Linked DNA regions of Homo sapiens: region 2 is linked to region 1. Evidence: fine-mapped expression QTL. A gene starts in region 1. The other region holds a variant in brackets. All regions are shown on one strand. Distances are between the middles of the regions.

The links. PIP is the estimated chance that this variant, and not a neighbour inherited with it, causes the effect.
Region 2: its variant is the best candidate, but not a certain one, in a credible set for the expression of PLEC in whole blood (INTERVAL, PIP 0.78).

Annotation. Positions count from the first base shown.
Region 1 is chr8:143,937,860-143,940,757 of GRCh38, reverse strand. PLEC (plectin) reads left to right here and starts at 1,161. Exons shown (of 32, transcript NM_201384.3): 1 at 1,161-1,408; 2 at 2,066-2,127; 3 at 2,518-2,607. The coding sequence starts at 1,297. RefSeq lists enhancers at 243-537, 715-774, 1,185-1,424 and silencers at 935-1,164, 1,445-1,544.
Region 2 is chr8:144,063,077-144,065,974 of GRCh38, reverse strand. It overlaps a transcript of OPLAH not described here and a transcript of EXOSC4 not described here. Among named protein-coding and RNA genes, the nearest start is that of OPLAH, 3.8 kb to the right of the region's middle. The variant C/T (reference allele first, on the strand shown) is at 1,257.

The DNA of each region.
Region 1 (2,898 bases):
CCCCTCACGGCCTCAGGGGCAGTAGGAATGAGGTGGGGTGAGCTCTTCCCAGAACTGAGGCCGAGTGCAGCTCCCAGCTGGACCGAATCTGCCTGATGTGCGGCTGGAACATTCTTGTGGTTGGGGCAGCGCATTCTTTCCTATGGTGGTCGGGTGGGCTGGGCAGGCCCAGAAGCTGGCCAGAGGCAGCTCCGCCCCGGACCCCAGGGAGCCGGAGGCCCCAGCCAGCGCAGGCCCTTTGCCCTTTGCCCTTTACAGCATGAGACTGCTTCCCTTGAGCCCCACCCAGCTGCAAACAGCACCCCCCACCCCTGGGGTCGCCCAGGTCCTGCCTCAGGTGTGGCTTCCCCTCTGTGAGTCACAGGCTTGGGCCCCCTCCCCATCCCTGACTCACTGGCGAGGCCCCTCCTGGGGCTTCCCGATGCTCCATTCCCCCATGAGGCCCGGCCTCCGTGAGTCAGCCCTCAGCTACGCGCCTCCGACGTGAGGTGTCTGCCTGGGGCAGGGTGGGCTCCGCAGGTGGGCACTGCTCCAGGATGTGCCAGGTGGGCAGCTTGGGAGGGGCCAGGCCTGGGGTGGGACCCCACTGGCCCCAGGGCCAGGGCAGGCACCATGGGGCAGGGTGTGCTCCCCGCTTCATGCAGGTCTGTGAAGAGGTGTGATTGGGGGGCTGCAAGAGCTGACAGGCAGCAGGTCCCCTCCCCTCGCCAGGTATCAGCGGCTTCTTGAGTCCGCCCTGGCAGGGTGGGTGGGCAGAGGCTGAAGCAGGGCCTGGCCCAGGCCTGGAGGGAGCTCCAAAGAGAGGCGTGGCCTCAGAGCCCCTCCCGTCGGGGGAGCCCTTCAGTCTGTTGGGGGGTCCTTCTGGGTGGCTGTGGGGACGGCCTGTGTTCCTCTGCGGTCCTGGCACCATTTGGTGTGCAGTGAAGTGCCAGCTCCCCGTGTCCCCAGGTCCCCCTAGGGGGCTGCAGTGGTCGGGGTGGGTGAGGAAACCCCGGTTTCCTGTTTCTGGCGGGCCGAGGGCGTGTCTGTGGGGGAGGGGGCTGCTTGCTCCTTCCCGCCGGGACACTCCCCTCCCTGGCGGCGGCCTGGGCAGGGTGGGGCCTCGGGGGCGGGCCGGCCTCGCCGGGGAGTACAGCAGGCAGGGAGTGGCCGCACCGACTGGGGCTCTGAGCTGAGCCTGTGCCGAGTGAGCGTCTCGTGGGGCCGCCAGCCTTCAGCTGCCTGTGTGCCACACGGGGCTGCCCAGAGCACCGTGCCTGAGGCCGAGGGTCCGGGCGACGAAGGTGTGGGGGCAGCATGTCTCAGCACCAGCTCCGCGTGCCGCAGCCCGAGGGCCTGGGCCGAAAGAGAACCAGCTCGGAGGACAACCTGTACCTGGCTGTGCTCAGGGCCTCTGAGGGCAAGAAAGGTAGCAGGGCTCCCCTCGGGCACCCCCGCCAGGCAGGGCGGGCCCCTGCGGGAGGAAGGCCCACTTCCTGTGGCAGGAAAGCCTTGGCACCGCTGGGGGGCTGGTCTTGGAGATGGGGGTCGGGGGCCAGCCATCCCCACCCAACACGGAGTGGGCCGACAGGCGCCCGCGAGGCTGACGGGGGCCTCCGAGCGTCAGATGTCGGGCCTGGAAGGGCGAGGAACTCTGCGCTCTGGGGAAGGTTCGCTGCCCTGTCAGCAGCACACGCGGCTTCCCTTCCAACACCCCAGCGGGCCCGGGCCCTGGCTCTGCCACACCCCTGCTTGGGTCTCAGTCTGTAGAGGCCGGGGGGGACTGCAGGACGGGACTTGTGTGCCCTGGGCTCAGGGTGCGCCCAGGACCCTCCCATTTCCTCGGGGGAAGAGTCCGGGGTGGGGTGGCTGCACCTGGTGGCGCCTGGGCCCCTGGCACCTGGGTCTCTGCTGTGTGGCTGGGCTGCGGGTGAGGGCGCCTGGGTCTCAGTGTGTGATCTGAGGGAGGCTTTGGGGCTCCCCAGGCAGGACCTGGCCAGCCAGGCTGCTGTGTCTGCACGGTGGTCACCTGAGGGCCCCCGGGGCTTCTCCCAGGCCCCAGGTAAGCTGGTCTTGTCTCCCCCAGATGAGCGGGATCGTGTGCAGAAGAAAACCTTCACCAAGTGGGTCAACAAGCACCTCATCAAGGTTGGTGGCGCATGCTGGTGCGTGTCACAGGGGCTGAGGCTGTGGGAGGCGCTGAGGGAGGGTGGCCCCTGCCGCCCAAGGCTGTCCCCATGCTGCCTGTGTGCTCACCTTTCATCTCTGAAACCTGTTATTTTCTGTCCTCTTTCTTCCCTACGCCTGCTCCTGCCTCTCTCTTCCTCCTCTTCCTTCTGGTCTTTCCTGGTCTCTCCTTGCAGCACTGGCGGGCAGAGGTAGGTGCCTCCGTGGGGCAGGGTGTGTTCCGTGGGCTCCCGGGAGACTCAGCCCCCGCCTCCTTCCCTCTGGGACCAGCACCCACTCTGTAGATCAGCCACTCAGGGCCTATTGGTGGCTCTGGGGGACTGGCCACCTCAGCCGCTGCTGTCCCCACAGGCCCAGAGGCACATCAGTGACCTGTATGAAGACCTCCGCGATGGCCACAACCTCATCTCCCTGCTGGAGGTCCTCTCGGGGGACAGCCTGGTACGTGTGCCCCTGCCCCCTCCGGGCCCCGCCTGCCCCACCTGGAGACCTCTGCCTGCCTTCCCTCCTTGGGGCCTCTCCGGCCGCCCACTCTACTTGGAATCCAGCTCAACCCCTCCTGCCTTCTCCCTGGGGGCAGGCTGGCCTCGTCCCTGGCAGCACCTCCCGCCCAGGCTGCTGGGCATCACAGCCGAGGGCCTGGCCTGGGAGTGGCCGCAACCCTCGGACCTCGGCTGCTCTGGGCCTTGCCGCCCTCCGCGTCGGGACACAGTAACCTCATGCTCCGCTTTG
Region 2 (2,898 bases), 130 kb before region 1:
GCCAGGCATGGTGGTGCATGCATCTGTGGTCCCAGCTACTTGGGAGGCTGAGGTAGGAGGATCCCTTGAGCCTGGGAGGTCAAGGCTTCGATGAGCTATGATTGCACCACTGCACTCCAGCCTGGGTGACAGAGTGAGACCCCATCTCAAAAAAAAAAAAAAGTAAATAAAATAAAATAAAAAAATAAAAATACTCTACTCCATTTTCTTCCTAATTATAGGAATTATTTTATTGTAGTTGAGACAGAGTCTTATTCTGTTGCCCAGGCTGGAGTGCAGTGGCACGATCTCAGCTCACTGCAACCTCTGCCTCCCAGGTTCAAGTGATTCTCCAGCCTCAGCCTCCTGAGTAGCTGAGATTACAGGTGCCTGCCATCGCGGCCAGCTAATTTTTGTATTTTTTTTTTTAGTAGAGATGGGGTTTCACCATGTTGGCCAGGTTGGTCTCGAACTCCTGACCTCAGGTGATCTGCCCGCCTCAACCTCCCAAAGTGCTGGGATTACAGGTGTGAGCCCCTGCACCCGGCCGAGAATTAAATTGTCACAATTTCTGTTGGGATTCAGTACAGTTGCCCCCAGTCTCCTGGAGCACTAGTCTCAGGGGCACTGCCCCCACTCGCACAGGTGAGGGGCCCTGCGATGGCTCCACTCGAGTAGCCAGGGAAAGGAGTTTGAGAATCCCAGGACAGTCTACAAATCAGCAAGTGGAAACTAGACCATCAAACAAGCAAAAGAGAAAAATGATGTAAAATACATAATAATCATAATGTAAGAAAAAGCCAGAAAACCAAAGTAACTGTGCAGAAGTGTCCCTTTAAAGACAGATTGGAGGCTGGGCGCGGTGGCTCACGCCTGTAATCCCAGCACTTTGGGAGGCTGAGGTGGGCAGATCACGAGGTCAGGAAATTGAGACCATCCTGGCTAACACAGTGAAACCCCGACTCTACTAAAAAAAATACAAAAAAATTAGCCAGGCGTGGTTGCGGGCACTTGTAGTCCCAGCTACTTGGCAGGCTGACGCAGGAGAATGGCGTGAACCTGGGAGGCGGAGCTTGCAGTGAGCCCAGATGGCGCCACTGCACTCCAGCCTGGGCGACAGAGCAAGACTCCATCTCAAAAAAAAAAAAAAAAAAAGACAGATTGGATAGAAGAAGAAAGTCCTTTATGTGATCTAAAATGCAAACCACTGTCACCACTGAGGGTGAGGGTGGCTCTCCTGTCCCTGGGGAGGTGTGTCTTTAGGTCCTGGTCCTCAG[C/T]CTCTGGTGGGCCGCCTGGCCCATCCCCTTCCTTGAGGTTATGGCCCAGATGTGGTGCCTCTTCCAGGGCACCTGCCTGCTCGCTGCAACCTCCATGTGACAATGCCAAGGCCCTGTGCCCCCAGAAACAGGCCCAGCCTCCCTTGTGGTGGCTCTAGCACTGCCTGGTGCATCCCTTGGCCTGCAGCCCCCTCCCATGCTGTCCTAGCGTGCTCTCGGCTGGCTCTGCCCCTGTAGCCCTGGCCTGCCCTGGTTGCTGCTGTCCAGCTCCTGCTGTTGCTGGGCCCCATCCTGCAGGGCAGCCACGCACCCACCCTTCCTGATCCCTTCAGAAGCTGTGCCAACCGTGACTGCCGACATACCACACCTGGTTGCCTAAAACTATGTCCTGGCATGGCCAGGCCTGGAGGCTGTGGCTGGTGGCCAGTGGGCTGTCAGACGGGTGGGTGCGGAAGCCTGCATCCCATATCCCTTCCCCCACGACACACCTGGGCTTGGCCGGGTCAAAGAAGCTTCCATCTTCTAGGAGGAGGATTCCTGGAGTGAGCCAGAGACCTGGGACAGTTCTGGGCACCCACTGGCCATTTGGCCCTCAGGGGGCTGGAGGTCAGAGGTCAGGCCACCTCTGCCACGGGGTGGTTGGAACAGCTGGGTCCTGACCCTGAAGGCCCGGAATGCGGCTGAGGCGAGGGGGCAGGGGCAGCTGCTGACCTCACAATAGCAGGGTCTGCTGTCCCTGGCCGGCCTGCTGGCCCCCGCCAGCTGCCGCCGCTGGCTGCCAGGCATGTCCCTCCTCAGCAGCTATGAGGGCCTGCGGCAGGAGATCCAGCGGCTGGCACAGGAGAACGAAGAGCTGCGGCGGCTGGTGCAGCTCATCCAGGAGAACCAGGAGCTGAAGCTGGTGCTCAGGAACCGCGGCAGCAGCCTGGGCTTCTGCAGCTCCGGGTTCCTGGCTGAGGTGGCTGCCAGTCCCTGGCTACCCAGGCGGAGAACGATCAAATTCAAGAATGCTGAGAGAGGTGAGCCGTACCGGGGCCCCAAGACTCTGTGGAGTTGGGCAAACCCGCTGGGTGCTGCGGTGCCTCTGGAGCAAAGCCAGGGCCCTGGGGCTCTTCCAGGATGTGCGGCGGGGAGAAGGTGCCAGGTCTGGGAAAGTGACCTCTGAGCAGAGCCTGAGCGGGCGAGGGAGCTGCCAGGCTGGGGCGCGGCTTTCCAGGCCCAGGGAACAGCCTGTGCCAGGCCCTGAGGTGGGTGCAAGTTGTCTGTGCCTGAAGCTGTCAGAGTCACTGCAACGGCAGACTCTGTCCTCCCAGCCCTGCGCTCTCTGGTGGTGGGGACAGCCATATCCCTGGGGGAACGTGATGGAAGCCTGGCCGGGGTGGAGGTGTGAGAAGTAGCAGCTCTGTGTTCTGAAGGTGAAAGTAACAGGACTTCTGGCAGATTGCGTGTGGGGATGAGAATGGGGCTGGGGCAGCTCGCTGGGTGGGGGAGCCGCTGCTGGAGTGGGCCACTGGTAGGTGGCCTGGGGCTTGGTTTTGGGACGTGTCTGGCCATGCAGTCAGAGGCGCCACTAGAGAGTAGGGGCCGGGCCATCCCGCAGGCCTGGAGCTGCCTCTGGTTGCTGTGGAGGGGCTGCGTGGCA